Homo sapiens: one gene and its partners. The protein of the gene in region 4 interacts with the protein of the main gene of each other region in a biochemical or structural test. Each region holds a gene or a part of one and is shown on either strand. Other genes may lie near its edges.

Evidence for each region. The genes of interacting proteins can lie anywhere in the genome.
Region 1: the proteins of MAST1 (region 4) and SLC22A3 interact in a test that uses a peptide from one of them, tested with the Homo sapiens proteins (one large-scale study listed by IntAct).
Region 2: the proteins of MAST1 (region 4) and PKP4 interact in a test that uses a peptide from one of them, tested with the Homo sapiens proteins (one large-scale study listed by IntAct).
Region 3: the proteins of MAST1 (region 4) and ATP2B4 interact in a test that uses a peptide from one of them, tested with the Homo sapiens proteins (one large-scale study listed by IntAct).

Annotation. Positions count from the first base shown.
Region 1 is NC_000006.12:160,354,241-160,358,984, forward strand, and holds part of SLC22A3 (solute carrier family 22 member 3), read left to right. Parts: intron 1-4,744.
Region 2 is NC_000002.12:158,665,815-158,670,558, forward strand, and holds part of PKP4 (plakophilin-4), read left to right. Parts: intron 1-33; exon of another isoform or gene 34-267; intron 268-598; coding exon 599-749; coding exon of another isoform or gene 750-763; exon of another isoform or gene 764-850; intron 851-3,905; coding exon 3,906-4,101; intron 4,102-4,744. UniProt on the Homo sapiens protein: Plays a role as a regulator of Rho activity during cytokinesis. May play a role in junctional plaques.
Region 3 is NC_000001.11:203,706,195-203,710,938, forward strand, and holds part of ATP2B4 (plasma membrane calcium-transporting ATPase 4), read left to right. Parts: intron 1-814; coding exon 815-1,029; intron 1,030-1,667; coding exon 1,668-1,910; intron 1,911-3,106; coding exon 3,107-3,348; intron 3,349-4,682; coding exon 4,683-4,744. UniProt on the Homo sapiens protein: Calcium/calmodulin-regulated and magnesium-dependent enzyme that catalyzes the hydrolysis of ATP coupled with the transport of calcium out of the cell. By regulating sperm cell calcium homeostasis, may play a role in sperm motility.
Region 4 is NC_000019.10:12,862,059-12,866,802, reverse strand, and holds part of MAST1 (microtubule-associated serine/threonine-protein kinase 1), read right to left. Parts: intron 1,995-4,744; coding exon 1,856-1,994; intron 1,758-1,855; coding exon 1,625-1,757; intron 1,488-1,624; coding exon 1,322-1,487; intron 1,087-1,321; coding exon 985-1,086; intron 824-984; coding exon 701-823; intron 151-700; coding exon 41-150; intron 1-40. UniProt on the Homo sapiens protein: Microtubule-associated protein essential for correct brain development. Appears to link the dystrophin/utrophin network with microtubule filaments via the syntrophins. Phosphorylation of DMD or UTRN may modulate their affinities for associated proteins.

The DNA.
Region 1 (4,744 bases), on a different chromosome or scaffold from region 4:
GCTCCTCTATTAACTTGAAGGGCAAGTCAACTGAGCATCTGCCTGAGCCTCAGTTTCCTCAGCACTAGAATGGGTACAAGAATGCCTGCCTTAGCAATTGGCTTGACATATGCTTGCAAAGTGCCTGGTCATAGGTGGTGCTCAGAACAGTTGGTTCCTGTGAACACATAAAGACCCTTAAGCCAGGTGGGAGTCAGGAGGGAGGGAAGGAACAGGCTATGGGCCAGATTTGACCCTGGAGCTGTAAGTTTGCTGATCCCTGGTCTAGCATAATAAATCACTGATAAATTTGCCTTAAATATAAAGAGTCAAAGCCTTGGCCAGTTGTGGTGGTTCATGCCTGTAATCCCAGGAGTCTGAGGCCAGCCTAGGCAGCATTTTGAGACTCCAACTATACAAAAATATTTTAAAATTTTTAAAAAATTGGCCGAGTGTGGTGATGCATGCCTGTAGTCCTATCTACTCAGAAGGTTGAACCCAGGAGGTCGAACTGTGCTGCTGTATTCCAGCCTGGGTGACAGAGGAAGACCCTGTCTCTAAAAAATAAAATAAAATATCTCGGACACTAATTTGCTCTAAAGGCTGAGAATACCGATACTTTCCCACTGGACCCCACAGGTAGGTCATATTTCCCAGCTTCCCTTGAAGCTAGAGAGGCCACGTGTCTGAGTCCTGGTCAGTGATGTTGGGGAAGTGAATGTGGAACTGCTAAGCCTGGAGCCGGAGCAACCTTCCTCCTGCAGTCCCCGGAGGATGGTGGAACTCTTACACGGAAGGATATGCGTTCCTGGAGGCATGCGAGGCAGGCAGGAGCCCCACAGCTCCCCTCCACACCAATTCATCTGCACAGGAATATGGGATTGCGAATAAGAAATAAGCTTTATTGTGTTACACAACTGAGGCTTGGGAGACTGCTTGTTGCAGCTCTTCCTGTTAGGCTGCTCTGACTCATACAGCATCTTAGTGTGCTTCCTGGCAGGGCACAGGTCACGAGGCTGTGGGCACCTGACAAAATGGTATGGAGGCTGGTGCCTCTAAGAGCATCCTCCCCTAGGTCTGGTACACAAGGTCTCTGTGCCTCCACCCCATGTCTCCGCCTATAGAGGCTTTTCCCTCTCTTAGCCCCCGGGGCTCCCACTCTCCAGGCAGTCACCCTGGGACATGTGCCACAGCTGTCCTCCCCTTGGGCTCTTGTGTGCGCTGTTTCCTTTCCTTTCCTCAAAATACCTGTCTTTCCTCGGCCGGGCACGGTGGCTCACACCTGTAATCCCAGCACTTTGGGAGGCCAAGGTGGGCAGATCACGAGGTCAGGAGATCGAGACCATCCTGGCTAACACGGTGAAACCCCGTCTCTACTAAAAAAAAAAAAAATACAAAAACGATTAGCCAGGCATGGTGGCGGCTGCCTGTAGTCCCAGCTACCGGGGAGGTTGAGGCAGGAGAATGGCGTGAACCCGGGAGGCGGAGCTTGCAGTAAGCTGAGATCGCACCACTGCACTCCAGCCTGGGCGACAGTTAGAGACTCTGTCTCAAAACAACAACAACAACAACAACAACAAAAAACTTGTCTTTTCTCATGAGGCTGTTCCGTTTTGTACCTTTACACACACCAATTCCAGACACACCTTCCCCACTGCTGCCTCTACCCAGGGCTGGGCTTGGCTTCCTTTATCTGTCTAGCTGCCTTCCCTCTACTCATCTTGTGCTCACTGCCTCATCAGACTCTGAGGTGCTGGAGGGCCGGCGCTCTGCCCTCCTAGCCTAACGCAGTGTTTGGCAAATATTTGTGATTAAATTAATGAATGAAAGAGAAAGGGATTCCTTGGCACGTGTAATGCTTTTTATGACCATGGCTAGGCCAACCCTGGAATTGGCTTTCAGAGATTAACCCAGGCCCTCTACCGATGGTGTTGCTTCCTGTTGACTCCTAACGCCGATTCCTTGCCTCATCCTCCGCCTTCATCATCTTCTGCCTTGCATCCATGAGGTGTGATCAGTCACAGGGTGAACAATCATCGGCGGCCATGGCCGCCCGCAGACCTCTGGAGCAGGAGGAAAACAGGCCTCCACTTTACTTGACTCCTATCTGCTCATGGGGTCTGTGTCCGCAGAATCCTAATGTAGGGGGTGTGACCTGGAACATGAAAGGGACAGGAAGGAATAGAACTGCTGGCTCTTTGGGGCCATAATTTTAATGTGCTGACGTCCATTGTGCAGAAGAGACTTTTCCCAGCTGTCCTGGCACCACACAGTAGTCTGTGTCATCAATCGAGCCTGCTCCAGGGCAGCTGGGCACAGGTGCAAGGCCCGGTGCAGGGAGGAGCACTGAAGGGCCTGGGCTGAGCAGCTCCCAGGGTGCAGCGCTGTCCCCTTCATGGCTATGGAGTGGGGAGCAAACACCACCTACCTTCCAAAACAAACTAAAACCTTTCCAACATTCTGCCTCGGTTTTTTCCCCACCCCCTCTTAAATCATAACCAAGAAAGGACATGTATTTATATTCTGTGAGGAAAAAGCAAAGTTTTAATGGTCTTTGGTGTGGCTTTTTAAAATGATAAATGACTGTTGAGCTTGTCAAATCATGGCTAATACTGTTTTATCTGGGTGAGATCAGTAACAGCTTTTTAAGGGTTACCATGCTGTTATTTCTCTTCGTGTTGGTAATAAAGCAAAATAACTCTGTGGCTGGTACTTGTGTGATAATAGAGAAAATTAGTGAGGGGTGAAGTTTAGGGGCTTAGAAGAAGGTGAATAAATAAATGTAATTTAAACAATTCTGGGGCAGGCATCCATCCCACCTTCCTTAACATCTGCTCTAGATTCTAGTGCCCTGTAGAGTCCAAGGAGGGGAGCTGTCCTTGACTGTGAGCATAGTGGAAACCACTGGATGGAGGAAGGGTAGGCACAAGCCTGGACCTGAGAAACAAAGGCACCTATTCTGCTTTCAAATTCAGTCCTGGGAGAGCAGGTGACCTCTGTCATAGGACTGCTATAGGGCACCAGCAGTGGAGATAACCAAGTGATAAGCAAGTCTTTGGCTTTCCATTAACAGAGACCACTGGTCCCAACATGGAAAAGCGTCCCAGAAGCCTTTCCCAGTTGCTGCGTCCACCTAGCATACACACAGGATGGCTCTGATTTCATGACACTTCTGCCAACGGGAAGCTTTGGGCAATCGACAGCACAAAATGAAAGACAACATGTGTGCTTCCAGGCTAGTGGGGAGGGACGCCGTAAGCTGATGCTTCTGAGACAGAAACCGAAGGGACAAGGTGCCAGGAGCTCCTATACTAAAAACTGTTTGTAGCACATTTATGGGGATTAAGTGGTTGTGGTGAAAACAGCCTGCACGTTTAATATTGATGACGTTTTAAAAAGCAATGCACTGCAAATATCTGTTGAGAAATGAATGCCCTTTAATTGTTCACAAATGAGTATCTTAAAGAAAATACCCATAGAGAAGTCACCTGGATAGTTAAAAACATTAACTACCCAGGGTAGAGGAGAAAATTAGATTGAAACTAATTCAGATTAATTTGGCATCAACTTTAAAGAAATCAAATAAATAAATGTCCAAGTTATTAGAGTGTAAGAAAGTGTTCCAGGAACCTTTTCCACAGAGGTTCTTGATCTTCCTGTGTGGCAGTTAGTGGGAAATTATGTGACAAATTTATCACATCTCTTGTCAGCTCCTAGCATCCTTGTAAGATTGCTACAATTCCCTATCCAGTCTGTATCTAATAGAGCATACATAATGATTTTTATTTTAATTCCAACCAAGTTGAATACATTATAAAACCAAATAAAATTGTCTATTTATCAACTCCAGAGATCATTAGATAATAACAATTTATTGTTGCAGAGTTTTGTGAAAAAATTATCAAATTTTAGATCCAAACTGGTTTAGTGTAGTGTATTGCTAAGGCAAATAGGTGGCTAAGAACGTAGACTTCCTAGTTTTGTGGATGCAAGCAAATGGCTGAATTTGAGGGTTTTTGAGCTCTGGACTAGCCCAGTCCTGAGATTTCCTGGTTTTAGTGGGGAGACTTAGGTAAATAAGGCATTCAAAGTGCTTGTCCTGTTGTCTGAGATATGTAAGTAGCTGGTGATGATCATAGATGCTGACAACAGATACTGAGAAAGTTGACTCAGAGAGGCAGCTTGGGCCTGGAAATTCAGGCAAATGGCAAGCCCCTAGGGCTGAGGGAAGCGTGCTTTAGGCAGGGCACCAAGATTCCAATACTAAGGACGTGGCCAGGGTCCACTCTCTGGAGCTGGTATAAACTGGAGCTTAGTAATGAAAACTAGGGAAAGGCCCAGGGTAGAGGTCGGAGCTACCAGATTTGGCAAGATTTCTCAAGCCCCCGTGGATTCAGTTGTGATATAGAGTGAACAATCCCCCCATCCGGGTGGCTCTGGGGACAAATGAGAAACATGCAGGAACCGCTGAGCATGTGGAAGGTCCTGGGCACATGCCAGTTCCCTCCTTCTTGCTCTTTGTCACTAACTGTGGTGCCCAAGTCCTCCCCTTGCCTGGTCTAGTCTGGGGTTGCTGGATGTGGACTCACTCAGAACCCCACACTTCTTTCCAATTGCAGTCTGAGCAGAGGGACGCTGGGACAGAGCCCTGGACTTTCCTAAAACCGGGAAATCCCAGGACAGGACTAGACCAGAGCTCAGTGAGGGCTGAAGACTCAGCTGTGGGGCTGCAGGGCTTGAACTCCATCGCATGTTTTCTCATGAG
Region 2 (4,744 bases), on a different chromosome or scaffold from region 4:
GTGAGAATGCATTTTGCACACAAATATACTTACTTTTTCACCAGGCTGTATGAATTATGATGCTGGATGTTTCTGGAGATTTCCCTTTCTTCTGAGGCAAGGGATTTTTCCAACTAATCTCTTTGACAGGTTTCTGAACTCGAAATATTGTTGCAGGGAATATAGAAAAAAAATGACTTGATGGAGACAGGTTCTCCTTTCATGTGTGCTGATGGGTTACTGTCTCTGCCATCCTATTTATAGCCTCTGGGTTTGGCAGGGGACCAACTGCAAAGAAAACACACGATCCTTCCTTAATCATGTTTATGTATCTGAGATAGAAAGTAATCACTGCCTTCTCTTTTCTGCACAAAAATATCTGGCAGATGGTGGTTTGAGATTTTCAGGCTTTGGGATTTCTTTTTAAATCAGTCATTCCAGCCTATCTTTCTCCCCAACTTTGGTTTTCTCTTCACTGACACCACAGATTTGATCTTCAATTGGAAAGAAACCATTTAATCTATTAGTTCATCTTTTGGAAACATCTTTTTTAGGTGACAGTAACATATGAGACTGGAACTCTGTTTTATGTTACTTCCTGCCTTATTTTTCTCACTAGTTTGCAGCATATATCCGGGCGGCCGTCCGAAAAGAAAAGGGGCTCCCCATCCTTGTGGAGCTTCTGAGAATGGATAACGATAGAGTTGTTTCTTCCGTGGCAACAGCCTTGAGGAATATGGCACTAGATGTTCGCAACAAGGAGCTCATAGGTATGTTCTGGTGACAAGATGAGCTGTAAATGTGAGAGCAGCTACAAAATTCATGAAACTCTTCTTTTGATTAATAAATATATGGCTTGTAAAATCATTAACAGCTGAGCCCTAGTCTCCAGTTTCTTGGCATATTTGAGTACTCCTGTTTTGTGACCATTCTTTTTCAGCAGGAGGCAAGCTCATTAATTAGTCATTGATTAGGGAAGGTAAATTTTCAGAAAGGCCAGCAATTTTAGTTGTACCTTACAACACTAGTAGGGTTAATGTCTCTCATTTCTAAGAGAGTTCTCTATATCCTGAGCAACAAAAAATCTTAATCTCCCTTTCCAATTTTTGGACTGCTACCTGCTAATTCACCAACACTACCATACTCTAAATAAAAAATCACATGAATGTTTTGTAGCTTTCCCCTCTCACATTGGTATAAATCTTTATCCCAGAGAAGAACCACTGTCCCAACATCATTTCCACCCTGGGCAGGGGCAGGACTAGGGTGAGCTAAGCAAGGCGCCAAAGGCACAACATTTTAGGAGGCCTTTACTCTCAGGTTTGTACAAGGTAGGGTTGGCACATGCACAAACCAAACAGTGAGGACCTCTGTACGCTCCGCACCCCAGGCAGCTTGCTTGCCTCTGCGGCATTGCCACATCCTAGGCAGGATGCGGGCTAAAGAAGACATCAGGGACCCCCATAAACCTGAGCTTCGTTCCCAGGATGTGCTGCTCACTGGCCATGCAACCTGGGGTATCCTATATAACCCCGTTCAGGCTCCGTAATTCTATCTAGATTGGAAATGAAAGGCAACTCCTCATCTCTGAAGGGGAGCTGTTGATGCCTGCTGTCCTAACTGGGTTTGCTGTAAAGAGGAAATGAGAGAGCTCCATGCCAAGTCCCACAGCTGGTGACAGGTCAGGGGAGAAGGAGGGGAAATGGGACAAGATCTTATGTGGATTCATGTGAATCTATAGTAAACTTAAAATACACCTGCCATGAGAGAAGGAGAGAGAAACAAGGGCGATGATGTTTACCATAAAGAATTGCTGTAAGGATTAAACGTGATGACTTACAATGGAAGCCCTTCACACAGTGCCTGACAGAATTGCTATTTTGAATTGTTGCCCAGATTAACCTGCTCTTAACACACCATTCCTTTAAGCCAAATCATCCCCCTACGGAGAGGAAAGGAAGTTCCTCCTCACCCTGTTCATGGTCCAGCTCATGCCTGATTCTTGTAGATGTGCCATATCTCTCAGTTCCCACACTTCCTTTACAGAAATCCTTCAGGTCCCTAAAGAGAGATATTCTTTAAAGTTATTTTTCTTACGTCTGTATTGTTTGGATTTCTTATAAGAAGCATGTATAATTTGGGCATTTTTAATGCTAAAAAATAAATGGTTGACACGTATATCCTGTGGCCTGTCATATTTCACAACGCAAAGACACAGGTAGACAGGAGTCCTTGAGCTGGTACTGTGAAGTGCTAAGACCTTTGGCAAGAGGAATGTGTGTTCCAAGTCTTGGCTTCCTCTCAGTGCATTTCTGTGTTTTCTGTGAATAACCCTTTTTAACTTCCACTGGCCTTCTGCCTCTCCAGTGATGAGCTTTTTTTTTTTTTTTTTAACCTGGCTGGAGCACTCTTGAACTGTTCCATCAGTCTGTTTTTTTGTTTCCCTATTCCCGTCTTCCTGTGAGATCTGCCTCACTCTTGGATTCAGTATTTGGCTCTAATTTACCCAGTACTTCAGTTCCTAGGAACCTTCCCCTTCTCTGACCTCTTCCCTCTTTTTTCACATTCATCATCAGCACTAGCAAAGGACTTTCTTTTCAGAGCCATTTTTCACAAAGAAGCAAAGTTTTATCACTTCATAAAAGTTACTACATACTCAACTGAGTGGGACCCACCCTGCTGTCTGGAGCTGCAAGTTCTGAGGGGACCGCCAGGCTCACTCATTCATAGGCAGAGTGAGCTGCCTCGGCCTAACCCCCAGGAGTGCAATTTAAAGTTATGCCTTAGCAAAATGACAAATTACATGTCATGGGCCTTTTGGTCATTCATGAGTATTCAAAATCACCAGAGCTAACTTATCATCTGCTCTGAAAACCACATTTATCTTGTGGCCTTACAGTGTCAGCACTGTTTTTCCACTCTTCATAGCAGTGTTTGTCGTGAGCAAGCCAGAGCCTTCCCTCTGACGTGCTGTACATCACACAGCATGTAGCTGAGACCTGTCTTCTTCTGCTTACCACTGTAAATAAACAGGCCTTTATAAAAAGCGATTGCACATCCACTCAATTATTAGCATAGGGGAGAACTAAGAAGATGTTTACTTGCACTTTAGTTCATTTCTTTTGTTTGTAGTGCACTTACAGTTTGTCAGTTGGTAATCGAAGTTGAAAAAGCTAGAGGTAATCTCTTTTTGGAGAGGAATAAGAAAAATTCAGTATCTATAAAGAAATACCTCAATAACTGTGAAACTCCCCTTGCCTTGTCTTAGCAAGAATTTCATTATTATTGCATTATTCCTGGGAGATAACATACCTATAATTTTAATACCAGAACTTTTACTTGTGTCATCTTTTAAAGAAACTAACATGTTGCCACCGTTGTCAGATGAGTTGCTGTACACCTCAGCTCTATACACAAAAATGTGTAACTGTACCCAGTTCATACATTAAGATCCAGAAAGATCTAACGAAAAGTATTGTTTGGCAGCCTGACTTGGTCCAGATTCAAAGGTAAGTTTTAAAAAGCTCTAAGAGGAAATTGAGGTATTTGTGATGCATAGGAATTCCATTGAGAATAAAATTTACTATTATAATTCCTTCATTACTCAATGTTACTGAAAATACTCGAACGAAAGTAACTTGATTTGTCTACCCAATTTTACGCATTGATTTACATTTGCTTTCAGCAATTGACAGTAATGTTTTATAAATGAATCATTTCTGCAAGTGACGTTGCAATAAATGTTAGCTTTCCCCTTATAATGACATTTGTCCTTTTCTTCTTTGCCATGGGTTTTGATTTTTTCCCCTATTATTGTCTCTTTGGGGGTTTTATTTTTAAGAGATTGCATGCCACCAGAATCTGAACAACAATAACAAAAACCTAGTACCTTCTGGAAGTAGAATTTACTCTTTTGCCGTTGGCAGGCAAATACGCCATGCGAGACCTGGTCAACCGGCTCCCCGGCGGCAATGGCCCCAGTGTCTTGTCTGATGAGACCATGGCAGCCATCTGCTGTGCTCTGCACGAGGTCACCAGCAAAAACATGGAGAACGCAAAAGCCCTGGCCGACTCAGGAGGCATAGAGAAGCTGGTGAACATAACCAAAGGCAGGGGCGACAGGCAAGTCTGCGGCAAGGAGGTGCAAGCAGTGCTCTTATTCCTGAGATTGTCCTGTGATGAGGCCTTTGTTGAGGATACCTTTCCTATTGGAAAGGATTTATTTTTGCATTTCTTACATGCCGATAAGCTAAGCAGTCTCCAGCACTTACAACCTGCTATGCTGGGAGAAGTGTTTTCTGTTATGGGGCCTATTTTTGGTTTTCACTTTATTGTAACACCCTCACTCCTACATTGGTATTTGTCTCTGTCTTAGTCTGTTTGTTCTGCTGTAACAAAATGTTGTGAACTGGGTGGCTTATAAACAACAGAAATTTATTTCTCACAGTTCTAGAGGCCGGGAAATCCAAGATCAGGGCACCAACAGATTTGGTGTCTGGTGAGGGCCCCGATTCTGGTTCATAGATGGTGCCTTTCAGCTGTCCTTGCACGGTAGAAGGAGGGAGAGGTCTCAGGCCTGTTTTTATAAGGGTGCTAATGCCATTCATGAGGGCTCTACCCTCATGATCTAATCACCTCTCAAAGGCTCCACCTCCTAATACCATCACCTTGGGGGTTGGAATTTCAACATATGAACTTTGGAAGGGACACAGACCTTCAGACCATAGCAGTCCCTAAAGCCACAACTGGTCATGCCAACTCCTGG
Region 3 (4,744 bases), on a different chromosome or scaffold from region 4:
TAACCAACCATCCCAGTTTGCTTGGGATTTTCTCAATTTTAGCAAAGCCCCACATCCCTGGAAACTGTTCAGTAGTCTCAGGATGGTTTGGTTACTCTACCAATGGGCCATACCAAAGACTTCCCAGTACTTTCATTTCCTCATCTTTAAAAAGGCGGTAATAATAATGACCTATTTCACAGGGTTGTGAAGTGCTTGCCTGGCCCACAGCAGGTGCCCACATAAGTATTTACTATTATTGGCATCTTCTATGTGTGCCGTGACAAGAGAAATCTTGGGAAGCACTGTTCTAAGAGTTAGTCATGCAGGTGATACACTAGCACCATAGAGGCATTGTTGTAAACAAGGTGTGAATTGTCCAACATTCAGAGGTTAGTAGAGGAGAAGTCAAAATTGATAAACTACTATGAAATGGACAAGTACAGTCATGACATTATGAATCGCAGGGAGAGGGTGGGCGTGGAATAGGATCATAGAAAGCTGTTTCAGGAAACAGATCAACCCCCTGATTTATGAATGAGGAATTTGATCTAGGAAACAGGCCCAGAGAGGGTCAATGACTTGTCCAAAGCCACAAGTCAAGTTAGTGCAGTGCTGAGAATAGAACCTGTGTCTTTGAAATACGAAACCACTGTCTGTTCCCTATGCTATAATGTACAAGCAACAGAGAATGGGGGGGATTTTAGTAAGTCTTCCTGGCGATGGTGGTTTTAATAATTGGCAACAAAGGCTACAACTGATGCCAATCTATCTCTGGCTAGGGCCCTAGGACTGCCCTCCAGCCTGGGTTCATATGACTTGTTTCTCTGGACAGGTCTGCTCATGTCTGCTCTCACGGTTTTCATCCTGATTCTATACTTTGTGATTGACAACTTTGTGATAAATCGCAGACCATGGCTCCCTGAGTGTACTCCCATCTACATCCAGTACTTTGTCAAGTTCTTCATCATCGGCATCACTGTACTGGTGGTGGCTGTGCCAGAGGGGCTGCCTCTGGCTGTCACCATCTCACTGGCCTACTCTGTGAAGGTGAGACTAGAACAATCCTATCTCTTCCTTTAGGATAGAGATGGGAGAGAAGGGTACCATGTAACCTTTAGTGAAAAGATAAGCCATTCTATCATCTATAAACTTTGGCTGGTGCCTCACAAGAGCAGAAGTCCCTGGTATTATGGAAGGACCATCTCTGTCAGATGCATCAATGTTGAAATGACCCAGCAGAATCTTAAGAGAATGACAAAAATGGTATCTTGGATTTTTTTTTTTTTTTAAGACAGAGTCTCATTCTGTCACCCAGGCTGGAATGCAATGATGCAACCTCCGCCTCCCGGGTTCAAGTGATTCTCGTGCCTCAGCCTCCCAAGTAGCTGGGATTACAGGTGTGCACCACCATGCCCAGTTACTTTTTGTATCTTTTACAGAGACAGGGTTTCACCATGTTGGCCAGGCTGGTCTTGAACTTCTGACCTCAGGTGATCTGCCCGTCTCAGCCTCCCGAAGTACTGAAATTACAGGCATGAATCACTGCACCCAGTCAGTATCTTGGATTTTTGTGTGGGACTGGAAGATGAAATGTGGAGAGATGTTGGCTAGGAAATGGCCTTTGACCTAGATTTAGGAGAGTCCAGTTAGTCCCCCTCTCAAGTCTTTTCTCTTCTCCTTTGTAGAAAATGATGAAAGACAATAACCTAGTACGGCACTTGGATGCTTGTGAGACCATGGGCAACGCCACCGCCATCTGCTCTGATAAGACAGGCACGTTGACCATGAACCGCATGACTGTGGTACAAGCTTATATTGGGGGCATCCATTACCGTCAAATCCCAAGCCCTGATGTCTTCCTGCCCAAAGTCCTGGACCTCATTGTCAATGGCATTTCTATCAACAGTGCTTATACCTCCAAGATTCTGGTAAGCATTTCCTTTGCGTAGACACTTAGAGTGGGTGGTTGGAAGGGAACATCCATTTTCTCTGAAATGAACCCCCTTATTGTTTACACTGCCTAAATTGCCATCCCACATCCCATTTCTCACGCTGGAGTGAACATGTTTGGGTGAGACTACAGAAAAATCCCTGGGAGTCAATGGAGGGTTGGAGGTAAGGGCCTGTAAGAATCTATGGCCAGGAAATACCCTCCCAATTAGCATGTAAAAGCAATGTCTCTAAGGAGGGAAAGTAGAAAGTAACCCAAAGTAGAATTGGGCTTATCAGAAGTAAATTACTCACTTTCTAGAAACAAGCATAGTGTATTAGAATAAGACCCACACAAGGCGAGACACCAGCACTACCACTAGAGCAAACTACAAAATCCCTAAGCCCTGGATGGCACAAGGATCACGGTTACCACTGACCCCTCTCTGCCTACCCTTGAAAAACAACAGGCTAGGCATAGTGGCTCACTTCTGTAATCCCAGCACTTTGGGAAGCCAAAATGGTAAGATCGCTTGAGCCCAGGAGTTCGAGACCAGCCTGAGCAATATTGTGAGACCTCATCTCTACAAAAATAAACAAAATTAGCCAGGCATGGTTGCGCACCTGTAGTCCCAGCTACTCCAGAAGCTGAGGTGGGAGGATCACTTGAGCCTAAGAGGTCAAGTCTGCAGTGAGCTGAGATCACACCACTGCAGTCAAGCCTGGGCAACAGAGCAAGGTGCTATGTCAAAAAGAAAAAGAAAAAAGATGCCAGGTGCTGTGGCTCATGCCTGTAATCCCAACATTTTGGGAGGTTGAGGTGGGCAGATCACCTGAGGTCAGGAGTTCAAGACCAGCCTGGCCAACATGGTGAAACCCGGTCTCTACTAAAAATACAAAAATTAGCTAGGCATGGTGGCAGGTACCTGTAGTCCCTGCTACTCAGGAGGCTGAGGCAGAAGAATCACTTGAACCTGGGAGGTGGAGGTTGCAGTGAGCCAAGGTCGTGCCACTGCACTCCAGGCTGGGCAACAGAGCGAGACTCCATCTCCAAAAAAGAAAAAAAAAAATGTTATTTCCCCTATGAGCTCCAGGTATATAATGTGAAGGCTTTGTAAATGAGTTCTTTCTCCCTAAGTTCTCTGCCTTGTCAAGGCATCTTACTCAATAGTGCTGTGTATATTTCTTCTCCCAGCCTCCAGAGAAGGAGGGAGGCCTGCCTCGGCAGGTGGGCAACAAGACCGAGTGTGCTCTGCTAGGCTTTGTCACAGATCTGAAGCAGGATTATCAGGCTGTGCGTAATGAAGTGCCCGAGGAGAAGCTCTACAAGGTGTACACCTTTAACTCAGTGCGCAAGTCAATGAGCACCGTCATCAGGAATCCCAACGGTGGCTTCCGTATGTACAGCAAGGGCGCCTCTGAGATCATCTTGCGCAAGTGAGCACCCCCGACCACTCTGCTTCCCTTCAAGATCCTCTCCTCAGGAAGGCATGGGTGCACACCCCACACTGAACCCATGTGAATGAGGGAGCCCTCCAGCCAGGTGGTGACATAATAACTAATATCCAAGCGTCTACTCAGGCCACGCATGTTTTTTAAGTGCTTAAGGTGGCTTGTTGTATTTAATCCTCACAACTCAGTAAGGTGGGTACTATGATTATCCCTGTTTTACAGATGAGAAAACAGAGATATAAGGAAGTTAAGTATCTCACTCAAGGTGATACAGCTAATAGTGGCACAGCCAGGATTCAGACCTGGACGATCCTAAGTTTCCATTTCCTAATCTGAAAACAGAGATAGCCATACTCAGCTCCTAAAAGTACTACCCCCTCACTGTAACTAAATGATTCAATGTATGTAAAATGCCTTATACATAACAAGTACTAGAAACGTTTGTTCTGTGTTCTCTTTTCCTTCTCTTTCCTTCCCATTCCCATTTCTGATTACAGGGAATTTACATAACTTTAAAAGTGACTATTCGGCCAGGCGCAGTGGCTCACGCCTGTAATCCCAGCACTTTGGGAGGCCGAGGCAGGCAGAACACGAGGTCAGGAGTTCGAAACCAGCCCGACCAACATGGTGAAACCCTGTCTCTACTAAAAAAAAATACAAAAATTAGCCAGGCATGGTGGTGCGTGCCTGTAATCCCAGCTACTCAGGAGGCTGAGGCAGGAGAATCGCTTGAACCCAGAAGGCAGAGGTTGCAGTGAGCTGAGATCGCACCACTGCACTCCAGCCTGGGTGACAGAGTGAGACTCCATTACAAAAAAAAAAAAGTGACTATTAATAAATTACCCATAGTTCATCAAAAGTTGGCACTATACCTAAGTAGGGCTGAATTAACCAGTGCTCCAACATGGCTTTAGCCACCTTCTTTTAATCAGCACATTCTTGTATAGGAAACCTCCCCCAAACCACCAGCACCACACAGTGAGCACTATTCTAAATACTCGGATTGAAAAAGTCTCTCTGCCTTCAAGAAGTTCAAAAGAGCAGGTGATTCACAAATGACTTGCATTGCATTCACATATGGGTAAGAACAGATGACATGGGAGAATCCCACTCTCTATATATCTAGACCTTAACTCCATCCACAGCCCACCTACCTTGGAAAGAGGGACTCAGCTGGGTGATGAATGAAGGAAATGTTTGGCCACACTTGGAGCAATGTCTTTAGGAATAATACAGAGTTGCCAAAATACCTGTCAATGATTGTAGAAACGTATTGAGTGGGAAGGGAGACACCGCGTTCTTACTGTGCGCCTCCCCAGGTGTAATCGAATCCTGGACCGGAAAGGGGAAGCAGTGCCATTCAAGAATAAAGACAGAGATG
Region 4 (4,744 bases):
CCTGGGGTCTCGCCCTGTCCCACACCCAGACTTGGCCCACCTTGCTGAAGCGCGGAGAGCAGGAAGAGAACTGGCGGATTTCCACGGGCTCCTCCTCCGTCGTGTCATCCTCGTCATAGGAGTTCACGTGGTGATACCTGTCTGAGCGGGCTGGGGAGCGGGTATGGGCTGTGACTGAGGGTACGGGGTTCCTCCTCATATCACATCCCCACAGGAGCCCAGTCCTGGTTCAAGACGGGTTTACAAGTCTTCAGGTCAGGCCACGCCCCTGCCTCATTAGTGTATTTAATTTAGGCTCCGCTCCCAGGCAAGGTCCTTGCCCCATTCTCAGTGGCACCGTCTAGCCCCGCCTCCAAAGAGGCCACGCTCCACCTACAGTGCTCTGCACCCTGGCATCACCCCAGGCCATTCTGAGCGCTAGTACCTCTCTCTAGTTCAGTTCCAGGCCCACACTCACAACTCACCCAGGCCAGGCCCCACACCTAGCCCAATCTCAGGTTCTTACCTACATTTCAGCCTGAGCCCCGCCTGTATGTCAGCCCCGCCCCACTTGGCCCCGCCCCCACCAAAATACCACCTTCGCACCTAGGCATCACATCTTGGTACTTAGCCAGGCCCTATCCCAGGCTTTACTTACCCCAGGGTCCCTCTTCCCGGATCCCACCCCTCGACCCAGGTCGTGCCTGGTGTCCCAGCTCACTGTCAAAGTAGCTAGTGTCATCTTCCGACTCTAGGTGGGGGATGAACTCGGCCTTCTGCCTCAGCAGCCCTGTCCAGTCCAGGTCTCGAAAGAAACTGTGCTGCTTCACCTCAAAAGCGCCGCCTGGGACGGAAGGGATTCCAGCCACAGCTGATGGCCAACCCAGCAGCCCAGCCCCGCCCCCCATGTCTTCCGCCCCGGGGCCACAGCACAGGCTGGGCCTGGGGTTTTGGAGGCCTGCTCTCTATCAGTGGGCCCTCAGCTCCTCTGCATGGCGGACTTACCTGCCCCAAGCCTGACCAGAGGGTTGGTCTGCAGGAGGCTGGATATGAGGAGTTGGGCCTCCGTAGGTAGGGCCTCATCCCCCTCGGGCCACAGGATGTCATCTGCAAAACAAAACGGAACTTAGGGGCGGTTTTTGTTGTTGTTGTTGTTTGGACACAGGATCTCACTGTGTCACCCAGCTGGAGTGCAGTGGCACGATCATGGCTCACTGCAGCCTTGACCTCCTGAGTGCAAGCGATCCTCTGGGGGGTCGCTTTTGAAATCCCTGGAACCCTGAGCCTGTCCATCTCTCCGTGCACACCACACTCTGCCCCTGTACACTGCCAAGCCACGTACCACTGATGACCTGTCCAAATAGCTCCTCTGGTGTGTCTCCGAAGAAGGGCACACAGCCCACCAGGAACTCGTAGAGGATGATCCCCATAGCCCACCAGTCCACTGGCTTGCCGTAGCCTTGACGCAGGATGACCTCGGGCGCGATGTACTCTGGGGTCCCACACACCTGGGGGCAGGCTGTCAGCCCACGCCCCAGCCAGAGGAGGGCCCTCAAGGGAGAGCTGTGCCCCCCACCAGGCCCTGGGTTCCCGAGGTCCTGCAGGGTCACTCCACCCTCAGCGACCCCCATGCCCGCACACACACCTGTTTGTCCAGGAACTCTCGGGCGTCCTTCTCGATGTGGCCTTCATATAAGTTGGTGGTGAGGCTCATGAGCCCCATCTTGGAGAGGCCGAAATCTGTGAGCTTGATGTGACCCATGGAGGTGATAAGGAGGCTGTAGGCACAGGTGGGGATCTCAGGGATGAGGCCCGTCCATTCTGCCTCCTGGCCTCCCGAGGGACAGAGGGAGTGATGGGAAAGATCAAAGCTCACTTGTCAGGCTTGAGGTCGCGGTGCACGATGCCATAGTTGTGCAAATACTCCAGGGCTAGCACCGTCTCAGCAAAGTACATGCGGGCCATCTCTACGGGCAGCGCTCCAATATTCTTCAGCAGGGTGGCACAGTCGCCGCCTGCAGGCCAGGAAATGGGCCCGCATAAAAAGGGAGGCATTCCTCTCTCTGGACATGCACCATAGCACCAACTTCTCATGTTATGTTGTACCCGTTTTATAGATAAGGGAAACTGAGGCTCTGAGAGGGGCCTCCCTCCCTCCAGGTCCTCTACTGGGTTCTTCTTGTCCTCTTAGCCATCCTCCAAAGTTGGTGTCATCAGCTCATCTTATACACAAAGGGATGGAGACTCAAAGAAAGGATGGGTCATGCAGGCAGTTGTTGGTAGAGGTGAGGTTTAGTTGGGGAACAAAGGCTACCCACTTATCAACTGCATCTGGAAGCACAGCCCTCTATCTCCTGGTGTCTGAACCTTGGAGCTGGAAGCCTTAGATGCAGATTCTTGGTCTTCACTAGATTTTTTTTTTTTTTTTTTGAGACAGGGTCTTACTCCATTGCCCAGTCTAGAGTGCGGTGGCAAGATCACAGCTCACTGCATCCTCAACCTCCCAGCTCAAGCAATCCTCCTGCTTCAGCCTCCTGAGTAGCTGGGACTACAGATGTGAGCCACCATGCCCAGCTGATTTTTAAAAAATTGTTCAAGGCTGGGCATGGTAGCTCACGCCTGAAATCCCAGCACTTTGGGAAGCCAAGGCGGGTGGATCACTTGAGGTCAGGAGTTCGAGACCAGCCTGGTCAACATGGTGAAACCCCATCTCTGAAAAAAGAATACTAAAGTTAGCCTGGCTTGTTGGCAGACGGCTGTAATCCCAGCTACTCGGGAGGCTAAGGCAGAAGAATGGCTTGAACCTGGGAGGCAGAGGTTGCAGAGATCCAAGATCGCACCACTGCAGTCCAGCCTGGGTGACAGAGCAAGACTCCGTCTCAAAAAAAAAAAAAAAAAAGTTTTTTGTAGAAACGAGTTTCATTGTGTTGCCCAAGCTGGTCTCCAACTCTTGGGTTCAAAGGATCCTCCTGCCTCAGCTTCCCAAAGTGTTGGCCACTGCCTCTGCCCCTCTGCCAGATTTACTGTAATTGGCATTGGTATTTCAGTTTCTCAATATCTATTTCCTTTTTATCCTACAAAGGCTAGATTTCCTTCCATGTGCAGCAACCGGGGCAGTATGTAACCCAAGTTGCTCCAGTGAGTTAGCCCTTGGAATTTTCACTCTTTTCCTGTAAGAATTGCTAAGCTCATAGAATGTAAGCTGAGATCTGCTAGATGGCAACCTTGCTACATGAGGGCTTGTCTAGAAGGAAGCCCACATGTGGGAGTACAGAGCCAAGAGATGGAGAGTTTCCTGATGGAATGGTTTGAGCACCTACATCCAGCCATTCCTGAAGGTAATATTGGTTTTTCAATCACCAATGACCAAGAAAGCTAATGATTTCTTTCTTTTTTCTGTTCTCTTTTCTGCGAGATTTTGCTGGTTTCAGAAACTCTCTGAGGGTGGGGCCCAGGAATCTGCATTTGAGCACATCTATTGTGCACACAGACCCACCATAGAGATACTGATTTGGCCCCCTTCTCTCCTCCTCCTCTGCAATGAACCTGGACTAGAGCAGTCATCTACCTCCTAGTCTCCTGATTCTGCTCTCTCCACAAGAGCCAAATGGATTATCTTTTCTTAATTTTTTTCTTTTTCTCTTTTTTTTTTTTTTTTTTTTTTTGAGTCAGAGTCTGGCTCTGTCACCCAGGCTAGAGTGCAGTGGCTCCATCTCGGCTCACTGCAACCTCTGCCCACTCACCGCCCCCGGGTTCAAGAGATTCTTGTTCCTCAGCCTCCCGAGTAGCTGGGATGATAGGCGTGCACCGCCACTCCTGGCTAATTTTTGTAATTTTAGTAGAAACAGGGTTTCATTGGCCGGGCACAGTGGCTCACGCCTGTAATCCCAACACTTTGGGAAGCCGAGGCAGGCACATCACCTGAGGTTGGGAGTTCGAGACCAGCCTGGCTGACATGGAGAAACCCCATCTCTACTAAAAATACAAAAATAGCCAGGTGTGGTGGTGCATACCTATAATTCCAGCTACTCAAGAAGCTGAGGCAGGAGAATCGCTTGAACCCGGGAGGAGGAGGTTGCGGTGAGCCAAGATCACGTCATTGCACTCTAGCCTGGGCAACGAGTTTAGCCAGAGCGAAACTCTGTCTCAAAAAAAAAAAAAAAAAGGAAAAGAAAAAAACAACAACAACAGGGTTTCACCATGCTGGGTAGGTTGATCTTGGACTCTTGACCACAAGTGTTCTGCCTGCCTTGGTCTCCCACTGTAAGTGCTGGGATTACAGTCGTAAGCTACTATAATGGGCCTCCAAATGGATTTTCTTAAAACATAAATCTGATCATATCAAATCTTCTTAAAACCCTCCATTAGCTGGACATGGTGGTGCCTGCCTGTAGTTTCAGCTACTTTTGGAGGCTGAGGTGGGAGGATTGCTTGAGCCCAGGAGTTCAAGGCTGCAGTAAGCTGTGATCACACCACTGCACTCCAGCCTGGACAATGCACTAAAAATAAAACAAAACAAGGCTGGGCGCAGTGATTCACGCCTGTAATCCCCATACTTCGGGAGGCCGAGACTGATGGATCATTTAAGGCTAGGAATTCGAGACCAGCCTGGCCAACATGGTGAAAATCCGTCTCTACTAAAAGTACAAAAATTTGCCAGATGTGGTGGCACACGCCTGTAATCCTAGCTACTCGGGAGACTGAGGCAGGAGAATCACTTGAACCTTGGAGACGGAGGCTGCAGTAATCCGAGATCACCCCATTG